4 linked regions of the Homo sapiens genome follow. The protein of the gene in region 1 interacts with the protein of each later gene in a pairwise test. Each region holds a gene or a part of one and is shown in the gene's direction. Other genes may lie near its edges.

Region 1 (7,337 bases):
TTCCCGGGGTGGGCAGTGGCAAGTTCTCACTTATGAGGCATCGCTGTCAGAAGCATTTAGTGTACAAATTAGCCGTGGCCTCCTCGCCTCCTTCCACAGCTCTGGGCTCCAGGCTGACTGGGCCGCGGCTCCAGGCCCTCTCCCGCCTGCCCGGGGCGCACTGCTGCCCAGTGTGGACCCCTGGCTGCCTGCCCATGTCCTGGCAGGAGTGCCCGCTCCCCACTGGCCGGCCAGGGCTCCTCTAGGACCCCGACCTAGACCTGGGCAGGGGTGGCCATGGCAGGCCGGGGGTGCTCAGTGAGGTTTTGGGGGGTGGGAGGCCAAGGCCCAGGACCCGGATCTACCCCAACAGTGGCCAGCCCTGGTGCTGAGGGCTATGGGGGGGCTGGACATGGGGCCCCACCACCCCACCTGCCAGTTGGAGGCCCCGCCACCCCGCCCGCCAGCCCGCCTGCCACTCAGGCGGGGAAAATCATCTGTGACAGGCCCAGGAAGGCCAGCCCCGGGGGCCGCAGAGAGACACACACAGCTCCTCTTCCCAACATATGGCTGCTGTCGGCCCCGGGCGCTGCTGGCCAGTGCCAGGCTCGGGAGCCGGTGGGGGCTCGAGCAGCCTCAGCCTCCCGTCCCACCCGCCTGGCTGGCTGCCCCCTCTGTCAGTCTACATCCCAGCCTCCTGGGACGGGGCTCACTCCCACCACAGCAGCTCAGCCCTCCAAGGAGCGTCCTGTACCCTCCTCCGTCCCAGAGGCTCAGGACACACAGAGGGTCAGCCCCGCACCCGGCCCAGGGTGGCCAGTGACCCGGCACGTCTATGAGAGTGTAGTGCATGGGGAAGGGCCCAGCTGGGGTCTTCCAGAGCCGGGAGGCGGGTGGGGAGGGGACTCTCTGGTGTGGACTCTGGGATGGTCAGGGCTGCTGGGGAGGACTATCCCTGGTAGTGCTCGAGCCGGAAGACTCCTGGAGCCCCCATTCAGGCGCCTCCTAACAGGGCCCCCGTTCCCTCAGGTGGATGGACCCAGGGACCCCAGAGCTCCGCAGGCTCTTCGTGTGCCCCCCACACCCTTGGGCCGTTGTCCTGGGCGCTCTGGCCCACTCGGTTGCCCAGCCCCCTCCGTTCTCCCCTGGCACCCCCACTGTGTACCCGCCCATCAAGGCCAGCAGCCTCAGGCTGGTGCCGAGGGCCCTCACGTGTATCCATGACCCCTTCCGCCAAGGCTGGGCTGCCCCTCTCAACCAGGGATCCTCAAGTGGGCAGCAAGGAGGAAGCCCCCAGGAGGCCTATGCTCTGTAGACCTGGGGTTCTTGAAGTGCTCAGGGTGGCCACAGGCCCTGGGGTCCGTTATTGAAAGGACAGACATCAGCTGTGTCCGGACACCTTGCAAGGTACTGACCCCACGTGGGGGCTCCAACCTGCTGCCGCTGGATAGATTGCCCCGGTCTCAGGACCTGCGTGGGGCCTCCAGCCTGGCTGCAGCCCTGACACTGCCCTCACTGTGTGGGTGCAGGCACCCCGGCCCCTGCACCTGTCCTGACACTGGCTGTGTGTCGACACTGAGGGGATGAGACAGGCCTGCCCCCGGGCACTGGCCATGCCGAGCGCTGCCTCCGCTGCCTTCTCTGAGCCCAGCTCTCCGTCCTGCCCGTGAGCCCCCGGCACAGAGTCCCATTGTTAATGGAGGTGACAGGCGGGCAGCCGTGGGCAGACCGGGCAGAAGAGGTTAATGGCCAAAAATGAGCTTCTGGCTGGAGGCAGAAGGAGGGGCCATGGGGTCCCCATCCCACCCTGCACTGGGACTGGCTAAGGAGACATCAGGGCACCCACTAGGACCAGAGCAGAAGTGCCCGGACACTGAGCACCCCACTGCCCATTCTGCAGATGGGGGCCATGGGCCAGAAAGTTGGGGGGGTGGGGGCACAGGTGCCAAAACAGAGTCCCAGTCACTGCCTCAGGAAGCAGAAGCCACCTCTCCAAACCCAAAGTCAGCCCAGTGTGCAAGAGCTGGGACCAAGCAGGTGGGTCATGGCCACAGTGAGGAAGCTGACGTGCCCAGGGGGCCCTGTGGTTGCGGGGTGCTGGCACTGATATCCCGGCCTCGCCTGGCTGTTTGTGATGGGAACAGTCATCTGGGCACCCAGTGTACTGGCCTCACATGCTCCTCACCCCCCACCTCGTGCACGGCTGAATCTCAGGACCCCCACCAGCAGGTGCAGGGCCCCCTCATCCTCCCTGCCAGAGTCCTTCCGGGAGGCCAGAAACACGTCCAAGTTGTGCCCCGGGGCCCCTCTCGAGGCTGCCCCTCTTCTCTTCTCATGCAAACTTCTGCAAAGGCCCATCGGTGGTGAGGGGTGGAGGTGCTCCTTCAGCCTGCTCAGCGCTAGACACGGCCTTGTTCCCCCTCTGGGGCTCCTTGGTCCCCTGAGCTTCACTGGGCTTTATTTCCTGTATGCTGACATCTAGGTGCTCCAAGACCAGGCCTCCCTGCTCCCTACTTTCCTCCCCTGGACAATGGCCAGAGCCTCCAGCCAGTTGGTCTCCTGTGCTGTCAGCTGTGGCCTCTTCCAGACCTTCAAAGGGGTCAGTCTCGGGCTGGCCACTGAGGGACTACTGGTGTCAGGGTGACCTTGGACCCTAGTCTCCCGGGGCAGTGCTCAGCTGAACACGTCCAGAGTAGAGTCTATGTACAGAAGCAGCCGGCCTCCTGGCCCCCGCTCTCCACGGGGCTGCTGGCGTGACGGCAGCCCAAGCTGTCTCCCGGCCCGGAGCTGCCTGCACGGTCAGCTGGTCAGCTGGGCCAGGCCAGGTGGGCAGAGAGAAGGCTGGCATGCTCTGCCATCCACAGCACCCCTCCCAGTCCCCTGCCCCGCCCCAGGGACTTCCCTCAGACGGGCGTGTGCGGCTGTGTCAGGGAAGGTGGCATGGAGGCAGGAGGGAGACAGAGCCCCACGCCCACCCCAGAACCAGGGGCTGTTCCTCATGGACCCTGGGTGTGCTCTACCAGGGGGCTCTGCCAGCAGCCGGACCGGGGCCACGGAGATGCTGCTGAGCTCTCTTCTCTGCCCCATTCGAGGGGTGACACCCAGAAGCCCCGTGGGGTCCTCCCTTCTTCCCCAAGGCACCCCTGACCCCGACCTGAGCTGGGGACAGCCCGGGAGCCTGCGGCTGAGCCTGCAGAGAGCCCCAGGTCCTGGGGAGCTATGTGGGCCGGGCTCCCTGTGCTGTTTCAGAGTCAGCAGGGAGTAGCACACTCCCCTCTGGCTGGAGACCCCGAGACGCCCGCCTACCGCAAGTGTCGGGTTTAGGACGTCTCCCCTGAGCGAAGTCAGGGGCTCTGCCCCAGCCATGCCTGTGTCCGGGAGGGAGCAGGCCGGTCAGGCGAACCTCCCCTAGGCCCCAGCTGAGCAGTGGGGCTCCAGGCCTTTACGTTCTGGCAGCTCAGGGAGCTGCTTGGAACTTGGTGCAGCCCGGGAGGTGGGGCTGGGAGCAGCCCTGGCCCTGCTTCTCTCCTCCACCGCCCCAGGTCCTCTCAGGAGGGGACTCCCGTGGGGAGGGGGTCTTTCAAACAGCAGGGAAGTGCGTGGCCTCGTGGGGCAGCGCTGAGGCACCTCCCACAGGAGCCGGGAGTGAGGGCTGGAGGGGTCCGCATCCAGGAAGGGGGAGGGTGCTGGAGACCAGCCCCAGGTGGAGGCGGTCAGCCGGCAGGGCGGGGTGCGAGGGGCCGGTCCGGGCAGCCTCCGGTTTAGAGGAAAAGAGAACGGAGGGCAGGGCTCGCCCAGGGAGGGCAAGGAAGGGAGCCCGGCTCCGCTGGCTCAGTCCGCGGCACCCCTGTCCCCCAGGACAGCCCCCAGGGGCCCTGGCTCGGGTGGGCCGGCGGCTGTCAGGGGCCAGAGCCCTGATGGATAAGCGCTGACGGCCCCTCTCCCGCGCCCCGCGCCGCTGACACCCATCACGCCGCGGCGGGGACCCGGGAGACCTGGCGGCCTCTGTGCACCCCCGCGGCAGCCTGCGGGCAACGGGGGCGGGAGGCGCCGGGCGCCCCTGACTCGGCCGCACACCTGCGCCGCAGTCCGCTCTCCGTCCGCTGCCTCCCGGGTTCCCGGCCGCTCCACCGCGCGCCCCGAGAGCTGAGCCGGTCCCGGCGCACGAGGCCGGTGAGTGCGCGCCAGGGGGCGGCGGGGGGCGCGCGGGCGGCGGGGGCGCGGGGTTCGGGCCGGGGGCTGCTCCTTCCCTCCCGCCGCGAGCGCGGTCGGAGGTCGCAGCGCCCCCCGGAGCCCGGAGCCCAGGCGCACGCGCGCCCGCCTCTGCCGCCAACTTCGGGAGGTGCGAGCGGCGTCGGGGGGACGCGGGCGGCGGCGGAGGCTGCGGGAGTCGCTGCCGCTCGAGGGACCGCGGACCCGGGAGGTCCGGCTCCCGGCGCCGGGCCTCAGTTTCCCCCACGGGAGCCGCATCCCACCCCCAGAGCCCCAGCGCGTCCGCGGGGTCCGAGTCGCGGCCGGCGCGGGGCGGGGAGGGGCGGGAAGTTTGCGCCCTACACGCGGCCTCGCAGACTTGGCGGCTCCGCTCCCGGCCGGGCGCAGGTAGGAGCGGCGGGAGCCGCGGGGGCGGCCAGTTGGGCGTCGCGGGGCCGGCTGGACGCGGGGCGCGGGGGCAGCGGGTGGCCAGGCGTGTGGGGGGCGCGGGGGGCGGCCGGGTCCCCCCCACCCTCTTCTCGAAGTCCAGGAGCAGCGCGGGGGGAGGGAGGGCCGCCCTCAGGGGCCAGGCGGGGAGGGCAGGGGCCGGGTCTGGGGTCTGGGGCAGACGCCTGACCTCGCGCTCGCCGCACCCGCCTGTGTGGGGCGCCCTGCGTTCCCGGGGGGGGGGGCAGCAGGATCTGCGGGTGGCCGATCAGGGTCCCCGGCTGCTGGGTGCCCCCTCCTGCCCTGTGGGGGTGCCTGTGCCCCCCGTGCCACCGGTTCTCCCCCAGCTCTCCCCCAAACAGGGACAGGTGAGTGGGGCCGGGTGTCGGGGCCTGGCACAGGGCTGCTGGCTGCCCCGGGAGCGATTGCCGGGTCCGGCTGGGACGCGCGTGTGAGTGCGTATGCGTTTGTGTGTGCGTGTGGCTGCTGTCCAGGGGTGTCTTTTGCTCTGTGTACACACACCAGGTGGGTGCCAGCTATCCTCCGGGTCCCCAAGGGGTCAGCAGCTGCTGAGACAGCCCCTTGGACAAGCCCCTGACCCGGGAGCCCCCGGTCCCTGCTGGGAGGCGGGATGGGTTGTGGCATCGGCTGGCACAGCTGTGTGGCTCCCAGGGCTGGGTGATCGATGGCCCGGCACAGCCGCCTCTGTCGCCGGAGCGCCCACACCCATTTGTCATCCACATGGGTGGGGGGGGCGGCGGGCAGGGAGAAGGGGCCGCCTCTGCACCCACCACCCAGTCCAGGCCGGGTCTGCAGCCCCTCGGGGAGCCCCAGGACCTCTCCTGGCCCAGCCCCTGCCTCCCGACCGCCACCCTGTCTCAGCCACAGACCAGCTGGTCAGCCTCTGCCTGCCCCTGCAGCCCGTGACTGCCCTGCAGGGCCCCAAGCCTTTGGACGAGTGGACTTCTCCAGCCCTGTTGGTCGTCCCCCCAACGGCACCAACACAGTGTTTTGGGGGCAGCAGACAGCAGTGCCCCAGCCCTACCCTGCTCAACCCACTGGCCATGCATGACCACGGGTGCGACCCCCAGCCAGGTCTGCGTGTGTCCTGGGGAGTCGGTGTGTAGGGCCTGTGTGAGCATGTGAGTGCCGTGTTGGAGTGGTTTGGAAAGCCCCCCCACACCTGGATGGGTGGTGAGTGTGTTATCACGGACAAGCAGCCGTGTTCACCGTGATGGAGTGTGAGGTGTGTGCAGCCAGGGCCCCGCACTTGGTGGCAGACTCCGTTCTGAGCTTAGGTGGCACAGAGGTGGCTTCTCCGGGCACTGGGTGAGGGCTCTGTGTGAGCCTGTGGGCTGTGTACACACACCCAAAGCCCGTGTGCGCAGGCGTGCTGTGCACCCCACACAGGCGCGTGCTGGGGCGGTGGACAGCCCAGGTGGCGGCCCAGATGGAGTGTGGCGCGCATACCAGCGCCGTGTGGGGCGTGGGGAGGAGCGGGTCTTGGCTGAGTGTGGCCGCTGCAGGCTCGGCCGCTGACCTGCCCGAAGCCACCCAGATGGAGCTGGGCTGAGCAGGTGGCTGAGCCGTGGGGCCATGCTGGGACGTCCACTCCCCACAGCCTGGCCTGGCCCCACATGAGACTGACCCCCTAAGAGACCCCCAGTGCCCACCTGACGCCCTGCTAGAGCAGGCTCTGTGCCGCCTTTAGACACACACGCATACACACGCACTCACACATGCATGCATGCACACATGCACACACAATGCACACACGTGCACATGAACACAAGCATGCACAGAGGCACATGCACACACAGGCGCACACACGTGTGCACACACACGCACATGCACGCACACACACGTGCATGCACACGCACACATGCACACACACAGACACACACAGGCACACACACACACACGCAGCATCATCCCACACAGACCCTTCCGTTGGTGTCTCATCTCAGTGCCTTTTCCTAGGCTTTGAACAGGCAGATTGGCAGGGGCCAGGGTTGCTGGAGGGAATGAGACCAGGAGGCTGACGTCCACCCGAAGTGAGCTCTGGTCACGCTGATTCTTTTAGCCACTCACATGCTGTGGGGAGATGGGTGTGGGCTGAACTATCCTAGAAATTGGCCAGCAAGTCGGCCTGGCCTCAGGGGTGGGGATGTGTGTAGGGTCAACCGATAAAATAAAGGACGCCTAGTTAAAATCGAATTTCCGATAAACAATGAACACCTTTCTAGTGTGCCTTTCCAATATTGCCTAGGCTACACTTAACACTCAGAAATGACGTGCTGCTGATCGGCGTCAGATGCAGCTCGCTGTCCTGGACTTTTTTTTTTTTTTTTGGTGCCCTGGACTTTGCTGCCACCCTGGAAGTGCACGTGGGGAGGAGCCGAAGGATGGGGCTCGGGGGGCACGTTGCAGGGCAGAGGCGGCGGGGTGGGGGGAGCACCCAGGCTCCAGTCCCTGGAGCCTGGGGAGCCATGGATGGAGAGGAGTGGGGAGTTAGTCAGAGGCAGGCTTGGCACTGACTGTGGCCCCATCTACAGGTGGCCATGGTGCCCGGCCCTGCCTCATAGCAGGCTGCCATGTCGCGGGAGGCGGGCTCATGCCGCGTGGGCACAGGGGCGAGGGCGCGGTCTCGGAAGCCCAAGAAGCCACACTACATCCCGCGGCCCTGGGGCAAACCCTACAACTACAAATGCTTCCAGTGC
Region 2 (3,967 bases), on another chromosome or scaffold:
AACTGGAACCAGGAAAGATATGACCTGAGGAATATCGTGCAGCCCAAACCCTTGCCTTCCCAGGTAATCTAACTTTGTCTTTTTTGTTTGTTTGTTTCCTTCTGTTGGCAAAAGAAATGTAGTGGCCATTTGAAATGCAGGGATGTAATAACTTCTGGTGCAGTGATCTCTCAGTTTTCAGTGAAGTGGTTGGGGCAGAGGAACAGTCCGCAGCTGAACCACCTATGCTACTTTACTGTCAAGTTGAATATTTTATTATCTGTAAGGTTTCAAAAGGAAGGGCAGTCCTCTTTTTCTCTTACTTCTGTTTGGACTTTATCTCTTAGTCTACAGAAATTTATAATGTCTTCTGACTTAGACTAGCTTTTCCCCTGGTCCTTGCCTATCTAGACTTGTCATTTATCTGAGTCTTGCACTTAAATCGCTCCTAAACAAACAAACGTACAAAACATGTGAAAGTTAGAAGGATATAGACTAACACCATAGAACTCAGTCCATCTAAAATATGACAGTCCGTGAGAATTCATGTCATATTGATCTTTATTTCCTGATGTTAGCTGTAGACTTCCAGATTCTTAATCTGTTAATTTTTCTTTCCAGTTTGGACACTACTTTGAAACAACATATGATACAAGCTACAACAACAAAATGCCACTTTCAACACATAGTACGTGGACTGTTTTTTCAAATTCTTACATTTTCAGAACCTAACTCAGTGACCGGCACATAGAAGGAACTCAAATAAAAGTAAACTGAATAGGTGAATAAGTGAGGCTGGGCGCAGTGGCTCACACCTGTAACCCCAGCACTTTGTGAGGCTGAGGCAGGCAGATCACTTGAGGTCAGGAGTTTGAGACCAGCCTGGCCAGCGTGGTGAAACCCCATCTCTACTAAAAAAAATACAAAAATTAGCTGGGCTTGGTGGCGCATGCCTGTAGTCCCAGCTACTCAGGAGGCTGAGGCAGGAGAATCACCTGAACCCGAGAGGTGGAGGTTTCAGTGAGCAGAAATCAAGCCACTGCACTCCTGCCTGGGTGACAGAGTGAGACTCTATCTCAAAAAAAAAAAAGAAAAAAAAGGTGAATAACTACATGAATGAGTAAACAGGATTTTTTCTTCAATTTTAACAGGACTTACTGTCTATTCCCTAGAAATAAGAGCAAGATCAGTTACTAAAACTCCTTAGTGTTGACTGTTTTCATTTGTCTTTCCTTCCTTTTTTTTTCTTCCCTCAGGATTTAAGCGAGAGCCTCACTGGTTCCCAGGACATCAACCTGAACTGGATCCTCCCCGATACAAATGCACAGAAAAGTCAACTTACATGAATAGCTATTCAAAGCCTTAAATTGGGCATCACTCAGGATGTGTATAAGATCTTAATATTGACTAGTTTCACATCCAGGTTTCTAAGAAATGATAAGATACTTCACTTTTCCAGAGTGAAATGTAGGAGGGAGCACATTCTAAGTACAGCTAAAAATTTAGCTCACTGTAACACAGTTTCACTCTCTGAATAAATAAAGCAAAAAACACAGTAAATATTCTTTATCCCTTTTTTTGTTGTTGTTTTAACCAAGATTTAAATGTCAAATTTAATACAGCAACTCAGTTCTACATTTGGGGTGTTGTAGAAGGGCCTTAAAAAGAATTATTTTAGGCCAGGCACGGTGGCTCATGCCTGTAATCCCAGCACTTTGGGAGGCCGAGGCAGGTGGATCACGTGAGGTCAGGAGTTCGAGACCAGCCTGACCAACATGGTGAAACACTGTCTCTACTAAAAACACAAAAATTAGCTGAGCATGGTGGCTCACGCCTGTAATCCCAGCTACTCAGGAGGCTGAGGCAGGGGAATCGCTTGAACCTGAGAAGTGGAGGTTGTGGTGAGCTGAGATCATGCCACTGCACTTTAGCCTGGGTGACAGAGCGAGACTCTGTCTCAAAAAAAAAAAAAAAAAAAGAATTATTTCTCTGAAGTCTACAACCACTGTGGTCTTCCCTTCCTTCTGTCGTAGCAAGACCTCAGAATCTAGCATAACTTAGGCTAGGTTTGGCTAGATGCTTTCTGGGTATAAGCCAGAGTCGTATAGTGCAACTTTGCTGTGACCTTAGTGAACATCCCCTCTTGAGGACTACAAAAACAAACGTAACTTTTTAAAATTATTATGGAGAATTTTACGTAAAACAAAAGTAGACAGGCTAGTCTAATGAACTCCCATGTATCATTACCCAGCATCAACTATTTATGACTAATCTTACCTACTTCTACTTTGTCTTATTGAATTAATTTTGGAGCAGATCTTAGAAATAGAATTTAATCTATAAAAATCTTGGTGGGCTGGGTGCGGTGGCTCATGCCTGTAATCCCAGCACTTTGGGAGGCTGAGGTGGGTGGATCACCTGAGGTCAGGAGTCCAAGACCAGCCTGGCCAATGTGGTGAAACTCCATCTCTTCTAAAAATACAAAAATTAGCTGGTCTTGGTGGCGGGCGCCTGTAATCCCAGCTACTTGGGAGGCTGAGGCAGGAGAATTGCTTGAACCCAGGAAGCAGAGGTTGCAGTGAGCTGAGACGGTGCCATTGCTCTCCAGCCTGGGCGACAAGAGCGAAACTCCGTCTCAAAAAAAAAAAAGAAAAGAAAAAGAAAAAAAAAATCTTGGTATACTGGCTGGGCACAGTGGCTCACACCTAATCCCAGCACTTTGGGAGGCTGAGGCAGGAGGATAGCTTGAGGCTGGGAGTTCAAAACCAGCCTGGGCAACATAGCAAGACCCCATCTCTACCAAAAAAAATTTTTTTAAAGATTTCAGTATATTTCTCAAAAAGATAAGGACTGTCAATTGTCTACTCCCCCCCAACAAAGGTCACTAAGGAAACCTGTTGACTAAACAAAGCTCATTAAACCTATTGTAGTGTAGCAAAGGAGACCATCAACTTGACACAGAGTCTTGGTAATGATTCAAAGGGAGGATGTTAGAGTAAGGTATTTATAAGGATTTGAGATAAGGGTCCAACTGGTTTAAAATGAGTCAAAATAGGGAACTAGTAGAGACTGAGAAAGGGTTGTGAATAGCTTAGGTTTGGTAAACTTAGGAAATCAACAGTCTTAATTTTAATATGGTTAAACTGATTAGTATTTCCTATTTTTTTATCTACTGTGTAAGAAGACACTATAATATATGGGCATTACTGAGAGATACTGCCCATATGTTGTCCTCGTAAGCAAGGAGATATTTTTTATCTCCCATATATTACCTCTCAAACCTTTGTTACTTTAGTTTCGAGATATAGATCCAGAATTTATGTTGTTACTCAGTAGTGAGGAAGTTTCTTTTTTTTTTCTAAATGGCTATCAAGTTGTCCCACCATTAGTTATTGAAAAGACCATAATTTTTTCACTCCTATTCAATGCCATTTTTATTGTAAATAAACTATGTACATGTAGGTCTGTTTCTGGGCTACTATGTTCTATTAGTTTAATTGTCATTCCTTGTATTATCTTAGTTATGATGCCTTAATTGCACCATCTTAATTATGATAATTTTATTACATTATTATTATTTTATATCTTAATACCTAATAGATCAAATGCTTTCGTCTTGTTTTCTTCAAGAATATTAGCTATGTTTGAACTTTTGCATTTCCATATAAAATTTAGAATCAGCTTGCTCCATAAAATGACACTGTTAGGATATTGATTGAAACGGTATTGCATCATTAGGTCAGTTTTAGAATTTGAGTTCTCATTAATTCTAATAATTTATTTGTATGTTCTTACAATACAAATATTGTTTTATAGACACATATTTTAAGTTTACATATCGTATGTCTTATTCTATTTCCTATGTATCTAGCACATTTTTAAAATTGAGGTAAAATATACATAACATGGCTGGGCGCAGTGGCTCATGCCTGTACTCCCAACACTTTGGGAGGCCGAGGCTGGCGGATCACTTGAGGTCACGAGTTTG
Region 3 (7,022 bases), on another chromosome or scaffold:
CATCAGAGGGAGACTCCGTTTCAAAGAAAAGAAAGAAAGAAAAAGGGCCAGGAACGGTGGTTCACGCCTGTAATCTCAGCACTTTGGAAGGCTGAGGCAGGCAGATCACCTGAGGTCAGGAGTTTGAGATCAGCCTGACCAACATGGCAAAACCCATCTCTACTAAAAATACAAGACGCTTGAACCCGGAGGAGCGGAGGTTGCACCACTGCACTCCAGCCTGAGCAACACAGCAAGACTCTGTCTCAAAAAAAAAAAAAAAAAAAAGAAAAGAAAAAGAAAAGAAAGGCAGAGGCTGGCTGTTTGGTCTGCGTGAGACCACTCTTTCATCTCCATTAACCTTCCAAACAAATCTCTTTGTTTAGTTAAAAAGTTTGCAAATTTAGAACACAGACCAAGACATTTTACAGAGCAGCACCTGAACAAACAAAAACACATTAGCTCCAAATGATTTCTTTATTTTGAGATGGAGTTTCGCTCTTGTTGCCCAGGCTGGAGTCCAATGGCGTGATCTCTGCTCACCGCAACCTCCGCCTCCTAGGTTCAAGCGATTCTCCTGCCTCAGCCTCCCTAGTAGCTGAGATTACAGGTACGTGCCACCACGCCTGGCTAATTTTGTATTTTTAGTAGAGACGGGGTTTCTCCATGTTGGTCAGGCTGGTCTTGAACTCCCAACCTCAGGTGATCCACCTGCCTCAGCCTCCCAAAGTGCTGGGATTACAGGTGTGAGCCACCATGCCCGGCCAATTAGGTCCAAGTGATTTCTTTGTAATTTTTAAATTCTTCATGGGAGACTCACAGTTCTTTTTTGTTTTTTATTATATTTTTTCACTTTTCTCTCTTTTTGAGTCAAGAACTCATTTTGTTGCCCAGGCTTCTGGGCTCAAGGAAGGACAAGGTTTATTAGCAGCATGAGAACTGACTAATACAATCACGGTGGAAGACCAGAGGGGTCTCCCTGGATCTCCTGGACACCAATGTGTGACTTTGGACAAGTAATCCCCACCAACTGTAAAGTGTGAACACTGATGCTGAAGTCAGCAGAAATTAAAGCCTATAAACTCCCTCTTTGAGAAAGGAAGCTAGCTGGCAGGGCACGGTGGCTCACGCCTGTAATCCCAACACTTTGGGAGGCCAAGGCGGGAGGATCACTTGAGGCCAGGAATTTGAGACCAGCCTGGCCAAAACGGTGAAACTCCATCTCTACCAAAAATACAAAAATTAGCTGGGCATGGTGGCGCCTGTCTGTAGTCTCAGCTACTCAGGAGACTAAGGTGGGAGGATCACTTGAACCCAGGAGGTGGAGGTTGCAGTGAGCTGAGATCACGCCACTGTACTCCAGCCTGGGCGACAGAGCGAAACTCCGTCTCGAAAAAAATTAAAATATTAAATAAAATATAAAAACAGACAGCAGGACAGGCACAGTGGCTCATGCCTGTAATCCCAACACTTTGGGAGGCCAATATGGAAGGACTGCTTGAGCCCAGGAGTTCGAGAACAGCCCAGGCAACATAGTGATACTTCAGTCTGTACAAAAATTTAAAAGTAAAAAATAATAGCTGGGCCAGGCACAGTAGCTCGTGCCTGTAATCCCAGCACTTTTGGAGGCTGAGGCAGGTAGATCACCTGAGTTCAGGAGTTCGAGACCAGCCTGGCCAACATGGTGAAACCCTGTCTCTACTAAAAATACAAAAATTAGCCAGGCATGGTAGCACACACCTGTAATCCCAGCTACTTGGGAGGCTGAGGCACGAGAACTGCTTGAACCTGGGGTCGGAGGTTGCAGTGAGCTGAGATCACGCCACTGCACTCCAGCCTGGGCAACAGGGTGAGACTCTTTCTCAAAAAAAAAATAAATAATAAATAATACCCGGGTATGGTGGTGTGCCACTCCCTGCAATCCCAGCTACTCGGGAGGCTGAGGAGGGAGGATCACTTAAGCCTAGGAGGTCGATGCTGCAGTGAGCTGATTGTGCCACTGCACTCCAGGCTGGGCAGCAGAGCAAGACCCTGTCTCTTAAATAAATAAAATAGTTAAAAAAGGAAAACAGACAGGAAAACTCCAAGTGCAGAGAAGCCTAGTGGTACTTGGTGGGGGAAACAAAAGTTGTTCCAGGTATAATAGTTCCTGAAGTCAACACTCTATCATGGCAAGACACCAGGCACTCAAATTCCAAGTCATGAACTTACCTTTTCCTTGTTTTGAGGATTACATTGTGTTGGGCGACAGCTCTTTTAGGCTTCTGGGAAGTAAGGTATACATTCTGGAGTAACTTCCAAAGAAAAAGGTGAAAGCATACGCGGAACTTTTGAGCCTTGAAAAAGTTCAGCGAGTCATTCTTGAAAAGTCCTTTTTTTAAACAAAGGGGGTTTCAGTCACCTCACATTTGCATAGCAGTTTCTCTCTTGTCAAAGCCTTTCACATTCACTTATTTTAATTCTTACAGCACTCAAGGAAGAGTGTGGAGTTGGGGGTCGGGGGTTGGGTGCAGAGCAGTGTTAACATCCTTCTGTAAGAGAAACGGAGGCTTTTGAGAGGCCAGGCGTGGCGGCTCATGCCTGTCATCCCGGCACCTTGGAAGGAGGATCCATTTGGGTCCAGGAGTTCCCGGCACTTTGGAAGGAGGATCATTTGGGTCCAGGAGTTCAAGACCAGCCTGGGCAACATGGGGGAAACCCTGTCTCTACAAAAAAAAAAAAAAAAAAAAAAAAAAAGCTGGGCGTGGTGGTGTGCCCTGGTAGTCCTAGCTACTCAGGGTGCTTGAGGCAGGAGGATTGCTTGAGCCCAGGAGGCGCAGGATGCAGTTAACCGTGATCGCGCCACTGCACTCCAGCCTGGGCGACAGAGCAAGACTCTGTCTTGGAAAACAAACAAACAACAAATACAATAAATTAAAAAAATTAGTTGGGTGTGGTGGCACACAGCTGTAGTCCCAGCTACTCAAGAGGCTGTGGCAGGAGGATCCCTTGAGACCAGGAGTTCAAGACCAGCCTGGGCAATGTTATGAGACACGCCACCCGCCCAGTCTTTACAGAGAATAAAAAAGTTATCTGGGTGTGATGGTGCACACCTATAGTCCCAACAATTCAGGAGGCTGAGATGGGAGGATCGCTTGAGACACGGGAGTTGGAGGCTGCCGTAAGCCGAGATCGGGCTAGTACACTGCAGCTGGGGCAACAGAGTGAGACCCTGCTTCAAAAAAATAAATAAATAGGGGCCGGGCGCGGTGGCTCACGCCTGTAATCCCAGCACTTTGGGAGGGCGAGACAGGCGGATCACTTGAGTGGTCAGGAGTTCTAGACCAGCCTGGCCAACAAAAATAAGCCAAACGTGGTGGTGTGTGCTTGTAATCTCAGCTACTCGGGAGGCCAAGGCATGAGAATCACTTGAATCCGGGAGGCGGAGGCTGCAGTGAGCCGAGATCGCGCCACTGGACTGCAACCTGGGGGACAGAGCAACACTCTGTCTCAATAATTAAATAAATAATTAAAAAAATAAAGAGGCTCCTGAGAGTCAACTTATTTGCCTGAGCCACTTATTTCACACATCCCAGGACGCCTGATGAAGGGTTCTGGATTTTATTGTCTCCTGTCATCCAGGCGGGCTTCCTGGAGGAAACCGGACCGCCAGGGAGGCCGCGGCCTCGGTCCCAGAGGTCGCGCGTCGCGGGGCCGGGGGAGGTGGGGGAGAGGAGGCCGCTCTGGGGCCGATCCCGCCCGCAGCTGGGGGCCCCCGTCACGTGACCAGCCGGGCGCCCAGGTCACGTGTCGGGGCGGGGAGGGGGGGGGCTGTCGGGGGCGACGGGCGTCCGGGCAGTGGCGCGCGCGGCACGCGAGCAGCGCACGAGGAGAGGTGGCGCGGGCCGGAGCCGCGGAGGGAGGCGGCGGCGGCGGCGGCGGCGGCGGCGGCGGCGGCGGCGGCGGCGGCGGCGGCGGCGGCGGCGGCGGCGGTGGAAGGGGCGGCCCCGCGGCCCCGCGTCCGCGTCACGTGGTGCGAGGCGGGCAGCCATCTTGCTACAAACACAAACACAGAGGAGCGGCCGCCGCGGGAGCGCCAGCGCCCCCTCCCCCGCTGCTAGCCGCCGTCGCCGTCCCCGGCCCCCGCCCGCCGCGCGCCGCCCACGCCCCGGGACCGGACCCTCGCGCCGCCCGCGGTAAGCGCCCAGTGGCCCCGCGGCCCCCGGCCCGCAGCCCAGCCCCGGGGCAGGCCCGCCCCCGACGCCGCGGCGGCCGCGCCGAGCCCGCGAGCTAGAGAAGCGCCGGAGCCAGCGCGCGGGCCGCCAGCGAGGACCCTCCCCCGTCTCCTCCCCGAGGCCGCCGCAGCCCGGTGCGTCCTCCCGCTCTCCCGCCCGCTCCGGCCCATCCCCGCCGCCGGGACCCTCCCCCAGAGCCGGCCAGCCTCGGGGAGGCCCCGGGAGGCCGGCGCCCGGCTTAGGGGGCGACCGCTCGCCCCCCTCGCACCTGGCGCCCCTCCCTGAAGGGCACGCCGTCCTCCCGGGCCGGCGCGCTGCCTTCCACCCCCGCGCTCCTAACGGTCGCCCCCGGGCCCCTGCCAAGCCCTGCCCTGGGCCGCCTGGGGGCCCCCGACCCTAGCGTCCTAGGGTGGCCGGGCCCCGCGCTTCCCGGAGTTCTCCCCAGCGCGCCTTTGGGTTCCCCTCGGAACGAGCTGGGCCTTGCGGTTCCCCAGGTCCAAGCGTTCCACGACTTTGGCCAACATGGAAGCCTTGCCCTCCACCCAGGCACCTCGCCTGGGTCCTCCTCACCTCTGTTTCCTTTCGCTCCGGCGATCTTAGTGCTGGGTCATTGGGGTCTCCTTCTTCCCAGTTGCTCGGCCGCGGGAAATACCTTCCTTAGCAGAGACTGCTTGTCCTCCCCGTCCCAGGCCAGGCCCTTCTCAGCTCATGCCCCTCCGTGCAGCAGCTCCCTGGCCACAGCTCTCACACTTTGCCTTAAAAAAAAAAAAAAACAAAAAAATTTCCGAGTAACTTTTTAAAAGCCCCTCGTCTCTCTTCTCTGTTATACAGTCATTACTCGCATTCCCGGTCAGACTCCAGGTCTGTTGCATCCTAGTGCTAGGAACTAGGAGATGCTACATAAAGACTTGTTAGCTGGATTGGATTTTTTTTTTCCAGCCACCCAAGCCTTACTTCCCTCCTGCCTCTCAAAGTGTCGTTCTGGAAGATCGTCAGCTTTCCCACCCTCTTGTGCACTGCCTCTTCGAGTCTATATAGAAGTTTCAATTTAGAACCCCGCCAACCCCTCGCCTTTGGCATGGAAACACCATCGGTGGTACCAGTAAGGGTCTCTCCTTTGCTGCCGACATGGGGGATTTGGGGTTCTTTCTCCTTCCCATCTTTCCTGTGCCCTTTGCAGACCTAGGCTAGCCACCCTCCACCAGGCTAGCCAGCTCCAATCTGATTTTCTTAGATTGTAGGTCTTGGTCCCCCAGCGGTCTGTCGTGCCATTGGGAAGGATTTGAGGGTAGACCTGGCCTTGGTGTCCCTGCCATTGCCTGGGGACCAGGGGCCCTGAGGGTCCCACGTGGTGGTTAGTCAAGTGGACCATGTGCTTAAACTTCTGGACTAGCTTTTTCTGCTGTTGGACACATCAGTCTTGTGTTCGTGATCTGATGCGTTAGCCCTAACTTTTACATCTGCTATTGGAATTTGGGAATTAAAGAAAAATAGCCCACTTTAGAGGAGAGAAGATGAGAGGAGGAGGCTAGATGAAGGATGTTGAAAGTCTAACAAATGTAAAATGGCTTCAAACTCACAGAATAATGCTTGCGAGTTTGGGATGGTTACTGCTACCGTGCGCACCTCCAGTCTTGCATAGTGTCAAGGATGTCGGGGCACGCTGTCGGAGCAGCTTCCTCCTTCTTTTCCCTGGCTGGAGCCCAAGGCTGGGCAAGTGGGCAAAAGGGATCACAGGAGGTAAAGAGTGAAAATCCTTTGAAAACTGTTAACTTGTAGACAATTGCCAAGCGGTGGTGTGATTTGCTGGGATGGCTCAGAGAGGAGAGAGCTGGGATAACCGACCAGCCGCGAAGAATGCGGGTTTGCATCTCTTTTTTAAGCCTCAGCGTCCTCACCCTACCACGCTTGGAGAATCTCCATCCTGAGAAAGGGCCAGGTCCCCTCCAGCAGGCCTGGGGCTGGGCGGTTGTTCCAGTGTTGAGGAATTGGGGACTGTGCTTCTGTTTAAGTGGCTCTGTTCTGTGCCAAGGCACAGTGCTCTGTGTTGGAGCTAATTTTAGGGGTGATGGAGTGAGGAGATAATGTTCTTAGCTGAATGTGCACTGGGACCGCCTGTTCTCTGTCTTTTCTTTCTCTCTTGAGTTCTGAGCCCCAGAGAGCAGGCTCCCTTTCCCGCGCGCCCTGGCGCCTACTGGAGCACCCGGGCCCAGCGTGTCCTCGCCCCTTGTCTCCGGCAGGGGGCAGTCTTTCAAAAGCATTGATTCAGATGCTGGGGGAGTGAGGGTAGACAGGCCCGAGAAAGAGAAGGGGTGGGGAAGGGGCGAGGAGCCGAAGTAGGCCGAGGCTTGAGGGCAGGGCCAGGGCGGGGGACAGGCTGGAAGGGGCCTGTGAGAAGGAGACCCTGAGCTGAGAAAGCTCAGCCGGGTAAGCTGAGACGGGCAGGTGGCAGTACCCCAGCCCCCGCCACCTCCTGCTCTTACCTTCATTGGACAGGGATCAGATACCTGGCCCTGAGAGCTTGCAATAGACAAACTTAGGCAGTTTTTCTTAAAAAAAAAAAATCTATTCTTTTCTCAAAGATTTTCTCCTGGCAGGATTTCAGATTTCCCTCGTGGGACAGTGTAATTAGGGAATGATGTCCCTGCTGTTCAGAGAGGAGAATGACCCAGCGTGCACACACCTGCCTTCCCTTGCCTTCCCCTTGGCCCAGTAGACCCCCAAGGGCTGTGCCCATGCTCGTGGCGCAGAGGAGGGTGTCTCAGCACTGGCGCACTTGGTATCTGGAGTCACATAGCTCTTGGCTGTGGGGCTGCCCTGTGCACCCCC
Region 4 (7,038 bases), about 31 Mb from region 1:
AGTGTAAAAAGGACCTGATCATGACAATTATTCTTTGAGTGCCTACCATGCATGTGCTGGGCTCAGGCCCTTCACTCAAACCCTGGCTCGTACTCTCTGAAGGGTCCTGGGTGAGGAAGATGTCAAGAACCCCATACCTCATCACTGACTCCCTGCCGGGGGCATGTGCTGCTCCCAGCCTGAGATGAGTGCTGTTCATTACACGTCATCTCCATGAAGCCTCCCGCATTTGCTCCAGGAAAGGCCCGTTCGCCACCCTGGCGTCATTCACTCTGTGTTGCTGATATTGAGTCTGTTTCCTTCAAGGGGAAACAGGCTACCCAAGGACTGGGGCTGCTGCCTTCATTTCTGTAACCTCCGGGGGGAGCTCTTGTGTGAGCCGCATGATGGATGCTTGCTAACAGCTCTAGGCAGGAGGCAGAGGGAAACTGAGGTCTGCCGAGTCATCCCTGGCCCAGGTACTTCATGCGTGTGCAGTGTTGCTGTGGAATCTTTACCACAACCTCCCATCCCTGTTTTACAGATGAAGAAACAGGCTCAGAAGAGGCAGACGTGTCTAAGATCACACAAGCCTTGACACCATGAGCTAGAAGCTGAGGGTGAGGTCACTTCACATCCCTTCCCTTTAGGTTCTACTCTATGTGGGTAGCGTCCTCGACACAGAAAGCCTGATAAAAGATGGCAAAATTACCGGGCGTGGTGGCTCATGCCTGTAATCCTAGCACTTTGGGGGGCTGAGGCGGATGGATCACTTGAGGTCAGGAGTTCGAGACCAGCCTGACCAACTAGAGGCTGGTCTTTAGTAGAGGGTTGGTGAAACCCTCTACTAAAAATACAAACACTGGCTGGCATCGTGGCGCAAGCCTGTGGTCCCAGCTACTCGGGAGGCTGAGGCAGGAGAATCACTTTAACCCAGGAGGCGGAGGTTGCAGTGAGCTGAGATCGTGCCACTGCACTCCAGCCTGGGCAACAGAGTGAGACTCCGTCTCAAAAAAAAAAAAAAAAAAAAAAAAAAAAGATGGTAAAATTTGGGGGCAGCAGACCAGATGCCTGGACTGATGGTAGGACTGTCCCACAAGGGGTGGACATTAGGTCCTTGAAACAGACAACTCCCTCCCCCAGCAGGGAAGGGAAGGGCCTCAGAGCTTGGTGTCTACTCTGAGCACAGGCAGGTGCTTTGGGAAGCCTACCCCTGGCTCTCACATACACAAAGTTATGCCAGTAGAAATATATGTTTGGGCAATGCCCAGGCAAAAGGGCCATGTTCAGTCCCCAATGTCCAGGCACAAAGGACTCTTCGCCACTCTTCCCTCTCTTGACAGACTGGCAGAAAAGGAGCCTGGGGAACTTGGAAGGGAAGGGGATAAGGCAGGGGAAGGGGCAGATGACAAACCCTGGGCCTCTTGCCCCTGCCCAGAAATGCAACAAAGCAACCCCTGAACTCAACATACAGGTCTGTTCTGGGGCCCCCACCACCCTAGCATCATCCATAATGATAGTTCTCACGTGCTGAGAGGACTTTTGAAGGGCTCACACACCCAGGGCTCACACAATGGTCCCAAGTTCAAATTCTCTGGCCCATCTGCCAGAACACAGGATCCCTCATGGTTCCCTCTGGAGGTTAGGAATGCCCCGCCTGCGCGCTGCCATGGAACTCCTCACAGGGGCTTGCCTGATTTCTGGTCCCATTCCTCTGGGAAGAGGTAGCTGTTGTTCTAGGTGTGATTAACCCCATCACTCCCTAGGCCTGTGAAGGGACTGTGTCAGCTACTGCCAGATCTGCAGGCAGCTGGGTCCACGCTGGATAGCTCCCGCCATTCCAAAACTCTCCCTTCAGCTGGTCGACGTTCTGTCTTTGTAACTTCAAAGAACAAACCTAAGCCCTCTCAGCTGACTGGGCTCTTTGAAGGCAGTGATCACAGATCTAGTGTTCTGATTCTTCCAGACTGGGGCTCCTTTGTTAAAAACAATTTTTAAATTTGTTATTTTTTTGAGACACTCTCTGTCGCCCAGGCTGGAGTGCAGTGGCACGATCTTCGCTCACTGCAGCCTCCGCCTCCCGGGGTTCAAGTGAGTCTCCTGCCTCAGCCTCCCGAGTAGCTGGGATTACAGGCGAGAGCCAACACGCCTAGCATTTTTTTTTTAGTAGAGACAGGGTTTCAATATGTTGGCCAGGCTGGTCTCGAACTCCTGGCCTCCAGTGATCCGCTAACCTTGGCCTCCCAAAGTGCTGGGATTACAGGCATGAGCCACCATGCCCAGCCCAGACTGGGGTTCCTTGACTTAGCAAAGGGTTGGGCAAAAAGATGTGGAGACCCCCTCGCCCCAACCGAATCCCATCATTAGCTCTAAAATCAACAGCCCTAAGGGAGCAGAAGGGGGTCTGCTTAGAGATCCTGGTTCCTTCCATTTCCTTGAAGTCCGAACCAAAGTCAGAGCTGAAGTTTCAGCTAAAATTGAAGCCAGGGCTATTTGCAGAGGCTGCCGCCCTAGTGCGTCCGCTGGTGCTGGCCCAGGTTGGAGCTTTGCGCTAGGGCCCTGCCACACTGCAGGCAGACGCAGGGGTGCTGCTGTGGGCCGCCTAGTGGATGGGCAGGTGGGAGCTGTGGCCGAAGGTCTGGCCACACTCACCACCAAGCATCAGGTTTCCGGACTTTGTGACTGTGCTGGTGCCGCAGCAGATTCCAACTGTGCACAAAACTCTTACTACAAACAAGGCACTTAGAGGCCTTCTCACCCATGTGGAGCGCAGGTGCTGCAACAGGGTGGAGCCAAGGCTGAGACTCTTGCCGCAGTCCCCTCAGCGGTAAGGCTTTTAGCGGTGTGAGCGCGCTGGTGCTGGATCAGGTTGGAGCTGACGCTGAAAGTCTTACCACACTAGGCACAGGCATAGGGCCGAAGCGATGGTCACACTCGGGGCAGGAGTACGGCTTTTCACCGGTGTGTACCCAGTGGTGCTTAACCAGATCAGAGCCACATCGGAAGCTTCTGCCATAACCCGGACAACGGTAAGGCTTGTCACCAGAGGGGCTGCCTTGGTGGTGAATGAAGCCGGGGAGGCAGGCTGTGGTCAGTCCACATTTCCGGCACTCGCAGGTTTTGGGGCTTGTAGACGGTTGCTCTTGGCAAAGGCTTCTTCCTCCCCAGGGCTAGAGCCTGACCATTTTCCGGGCGGGCAGCTGCCCCGACCACACCAGGAAGGGCTGCTCAGGCGGAGCCACCTCGCAATCCAGGGGTGACCTGGGGGCTCCCCGGGACGCGAATGTCCCGCTCCCCCGCCGCCCCGCCCCGTCCGGATTCTCCCTCGCCTCTTCTGGCGCGGCCGACTGCGCTGCGAGTGAAGAACTCCCCGTTTCCTAGATGCCAGCTCCTGAGCTCACGAGCACGTCCAGAGCGGAGGACACTCGGGACACCGGGGTCCAGCTCCGGAAACGGAAAATTCCACAAGCCCGTCACTCTAGGAAGCGGCAGCGAACGTTCTCGGTAGGTTTAACCCTCTTCTTCCTCTGACCGAGCGAGGGCTCCCCGTCTGCGGCGCGGTCAGGACCCCGCACTTTCGGCCCGGCTCGGGGTTCTCGGAGTCCGTCCCAAGGCCGGGCCGCACCACCGCTGGGGGGCAGCGAAGCGAGCCTAGAGGAGAAAAGGCGGTCCCCGCCGAGTGCACGCCGGGGGCGGGGCACGGCACGAAGGCTCCGTGGTCGGACTTCTGGGCTGTTCGGAGGCCCTGGCCCACCTGGAGGGCCCTGGAAGAGTTTCCAGCGCTTCCCGAGGTAGGCGTGAGAAGCTCGACGCGGACCACATCTCCCTCATGCACCGCCCGCACGTCCCAGGATGCGCTGCGATTAAGGTACTGCCGCGCCTCGTGTGCAAGGACAGACTTCCGGGGTCGAGAACTACAACTTCCGACTTGCATCACTGCGGTGGCGCTAAACAGCGTCAGCGAGGCGGTGCCCGACGATTTCCCTGTCTTCCAGTTCCGCTCCCTGGGATCAGCGGCGAGAAGCGGGGCGGAGTCTGAGGCCCGAGCCAAGATGGCGGCTGCGAAGCCAACCCTCACGGACTCGCTCTCGTTCTGCCTCGCGCAGCTCGCGGCGGCGGCCGGGGAGGCTCTGGGTGGGGAAAAGGACCCAGCGACCAACGAGACACCCCTGAGCCGCGCGCTCCTAGCCCTCCGCACGCGCCACATCAAGGCAGCGGGGGGAATCGAGCGCTTCCGGGCACGCGGCGGGCTCCGCCCCCTACTCGCGCTGCTACGGCGAGCGGCTGCAGCGGGTTCCGCCCCGTCCCAGGCAGGCCCCGGCTCCGCCCCCTCGTCGGCCGCGTCGGGAGCTTCTAGCCCCGCCCCCGCGTCGGGCCCCGCCCCCTCCGCTGTGTCGTCGTCTAGTCCTACGCCGCCAGTGCGCCTGCGCAAGACGCTGGACTTGGCGCTCAGCATCCTAGCCGATTGCTGTACGGAAGGGGCGTGCCGGACCGAAGTGCGCAGACTCGGAGGCATACTCCCTTTGGGTAAGTGCTCCGCCCCCGTTTCCTAGAAAGATTAGGTTTGCAACTCCCTTGCTCTCTAGACCCGGGCAGTCTGGAGTTCTTTGTGTCCTATCCCGGAATAACGTGCTTTGTGATGGCGCATCGCTCCTGTTTCTCAATCTGTTGTGCCCCGTGACGTCACTGCACTCTCTATAGATGAGAGAGAGCCCTCCCAGACCAGATAATTGTAGCCATTATCTAGGAATTGGTTGTTGAGGACTTCTTTCGAAGCTGGACTAGCGGAGGCCAAAGAGTTATTTGGTGATTTTTTCAGATGATTCTTACCGTCCAGTTATGATGTTCATAGCAGACATTCAGTGCCCAACTATGTGTCCGGCCCTGTGCAAGGTTCTGAAGCCCCACTGATGAGCTGGAAGGTGTAGTGGTTCAGAAAGGGAGATCTGCAAAAGTCACCTAACCCCTCCGAGGCTAGGATTCCTTGTAAAATGGGGCAATAATAGCTACCTAAAAAAATCAGAGTGGGGAGAAAACGAAGTACAAATATGGCACGAATATGCAAATATTCTAAGCATGATACGTATTTCAAGTTATTAAAAACTAGCATAAGCTGGGTGCAGTGGTACGCGCCTGTAGTTCCAGCTATTTGGGAGGCTGAGGCGGGAGGATCCCTTGAGCCTAGGAGGTTGAGGCTGCAGTGAACAATGACTGCCTGTGAATAGCCACTGCATTCCAGCCTGGGCAACGTAACAAGACCTCGTATCTTAGAAAACCAAACAAATCAGTAGTCGCTTAGGAAGCAGGAAAAAATAAATAAAAATAATTAAAACCAGCACAGTAAGAACAAATCCTAGCAAAACATAAGCTTTTCTGTTTACCAGCTAAATTGGTGCCTCCTAGTGGCAATGTGTGAAAGCAGTTTACATGTCACTACCTGCCTTCCACGAAATTATGCTAGTTTTGATGACATCTTAACTTTTCGGATAAAGGGAAGCATTAATATATTTAAAATTTACATAAAATGTATCTGGACCATATATGTTTGACAAGAGCTTTGGTTATTAAATAACCCCCATCATTCAGCTACTATTTTTCATCTTAAATATCTTCTGAATTTATCTGCTTCTCTCTCTTCCTACTTCCATTGTGTGCCCAGAGACTGGTATCTCTGTGCTGTGTGATGCCAGTAGCTGGGTTGGTTCAAGCTATTGTCTTTTCATGCTTGGACTATTATGACAGCCTTTTGACTCCCCCCTTCCTATTCTTTCCCCATAATGCATTCTCCCTATGGATGTCAGATTGTATCGTGTCACTCCCCTTCATAAAACCCTTGTGTGGCCCCCAGTGCCTTCACATTCAAGTCCTGACCCCTTGGCCTGACATTTGAAGCCTTTCACAGACACTGTATCTTACCTCTGGGCCTTTGGAAAGGCTGCTTCCAAACCTGAAATGCCTTCTCACACCCCCATCCACCGTGCTTCTGGCAAATACCTTCCTGTGTACCCCTCCAGACCCAGCCCGAGTGTTAGCCTCTTTCTTTTTATTTTTTTGAGATGGAGTCTTGCTCTGTCATCCAGGCTGGAGTGCAGTGACACGATCTCAGCTTACTGCAACCTCTGCCTCCTGGGTTCAAGCAATTCTCCTGCCACAGCCTCCCGGGTAGCTGGGATTACAGGCGTGTACCACCATGCCCAGATAATTTTTGTATTTTTAGTAGAGATGGGGTTTGGCCCCGTTGGCCAGGCTGGTCTTGAACTCCTGACCTCAAGTGACCCACCCACCTTGGTCCCCCAAAGTGCTAGGATTACAGGCTTGAGCCACGGTGCCCTGCCGACCATTAGCCTCTTCTGAAAGCCTTCCAGGCCCTCTCAGGCCACATTCTCCAGGTTATTGATGTGAGAGACAGTAAGGGGTAGAACCCTCACAAGCCCAAACTGTCGTTGCAGTGACCATTCTTCAGTGCATGAAGACAGACAGCATCCAGAACCGAACGGCCCGTGCCCTGGGGAACTTAGCCATGGAACCTGAGAGCTGTGGGGACATCCACTGTGCTGGTAAGAGGCTGTGAGGTTGGGGTCTGCTAGGGCTTGGGGCAGAAGAAAGGCTTGAGTGTCTGTCCTTGTTCACCCTCTGTGCTCCCCTTTCCTGCCCTCAGGTGCTGTTCCCCTGCTTGTGGAGAGCCTGACAGCCTGCCAGGACTCGCAGTGCCTACAGAGCGTGGTGCGTGCCCTCCGTAACCTGGCAGACTCACCCCAGCACCGCCTGGCCTTGGCACAGCAGGGAGCAGTGCGTCCGCTGGCCGAGCTCCTGGCCACTGCCCCAGATGCTGCACTGACCTTAGCCCTCGTCCGTGCCCTCCTGGAACTCAGCCGAGGCTGCTCCCGGGCCTGTGCTGAGCAGCTAAGTCTGGGTGGGGGATTGGGCCCACTCGTCAGCCTGGCTTCCCACCCCAAGCGGGCAGTACGCGAGGGAACCATTCTGATCCTCGCCAACCTGTGTGCCCAGGGCCTGATTCGGCCTGCACTGGGCAATGCTGGTGGCGTGGAGGTGCTGGTA

Evidence for each region.
Region 2: the proteins of PRR35 (region 1) and CFAP68 interact in binary tests that used the Homo sapiens proteins (3 or more experiments, as listed by UniProt).
Region 3: the proteins of PRR35 (region 1) and GIGYF1 interact in binary tests that used the Homo sapiens proteins (3 or more experiments, as listed by UniProt).
Region 4: the proteins of PRR35 (region 1) and ARMC5 interact in binary tests that used the Homo sapiens proteins (3 or more experiments, as listed by UniProt).

Annotation. Positions count from the first base shown.
Region 1 is NC_000016.10:556,084-563,420, forward strand, and holds the start of PRR35 (proline-rich protein 35), read left to right. Parts: upstream 1-4,310; 5' UTR 4,311-4,578; intron 4,579-4,813; exon of another isoform or gene 4,814-5,712; intron 5,713-6,486; exon of another isoform or gene 6,487-6,671; intron 6,672-7,172; 5' UTR 7,173-7,211; coding exon 7,212-7,337.
Region 2 is NC_000011.10:111,882,536-111,886,502, forward strand, and holds the end of CFAP68 (cilia- and flagella-associated protein 68), read left to right. Parts: coding exon 1-63; intron 64-600; coding exon 601-667; intron 668-1,235; coding exon 1,236-1,345; 3' UTR 1,346-3,440; downstream 3,441-3,967. UniProt on the Homo sapiens protein: Microtubule inner protein (MIP) part of the dynein-decorated doublet microtubules (DMTs) in cilia axoneme, which is required for motile cilia beating.
Region 3 is NC_000007.14:100,691,242-100,698,263, reverse strand, and holds the start of GIGYF1 (GRB10-interacting GYF protein 1), read left to right. Parts: upstream 1-4,013; 5' UTR 4,014-4,154; exon of another isoform or gene 4,155-4,327; intron 4,328-7,022. UniProt on the Homo sapiens protein: May act cooperatively with GRB10 to regulate tyrosine kinase receptor signaling. May increase IGF1 receptor phosphorylation under IGF1 stimulation as well as phosphorylation of IRS1 and SHC1.
Region 4 is NC_000016.10:31,455,494-31,462,531, forward strand, and holds the start of ARMC5 (armadillo repeat-containing protein 5), read left to right. Parts: upstream 1-4,031; coding exon 4,032-4,506; intron 4,507-6,428; coding exon 6,429-6,536; intron 6,537-6,637; coding exon 6,638-7,038.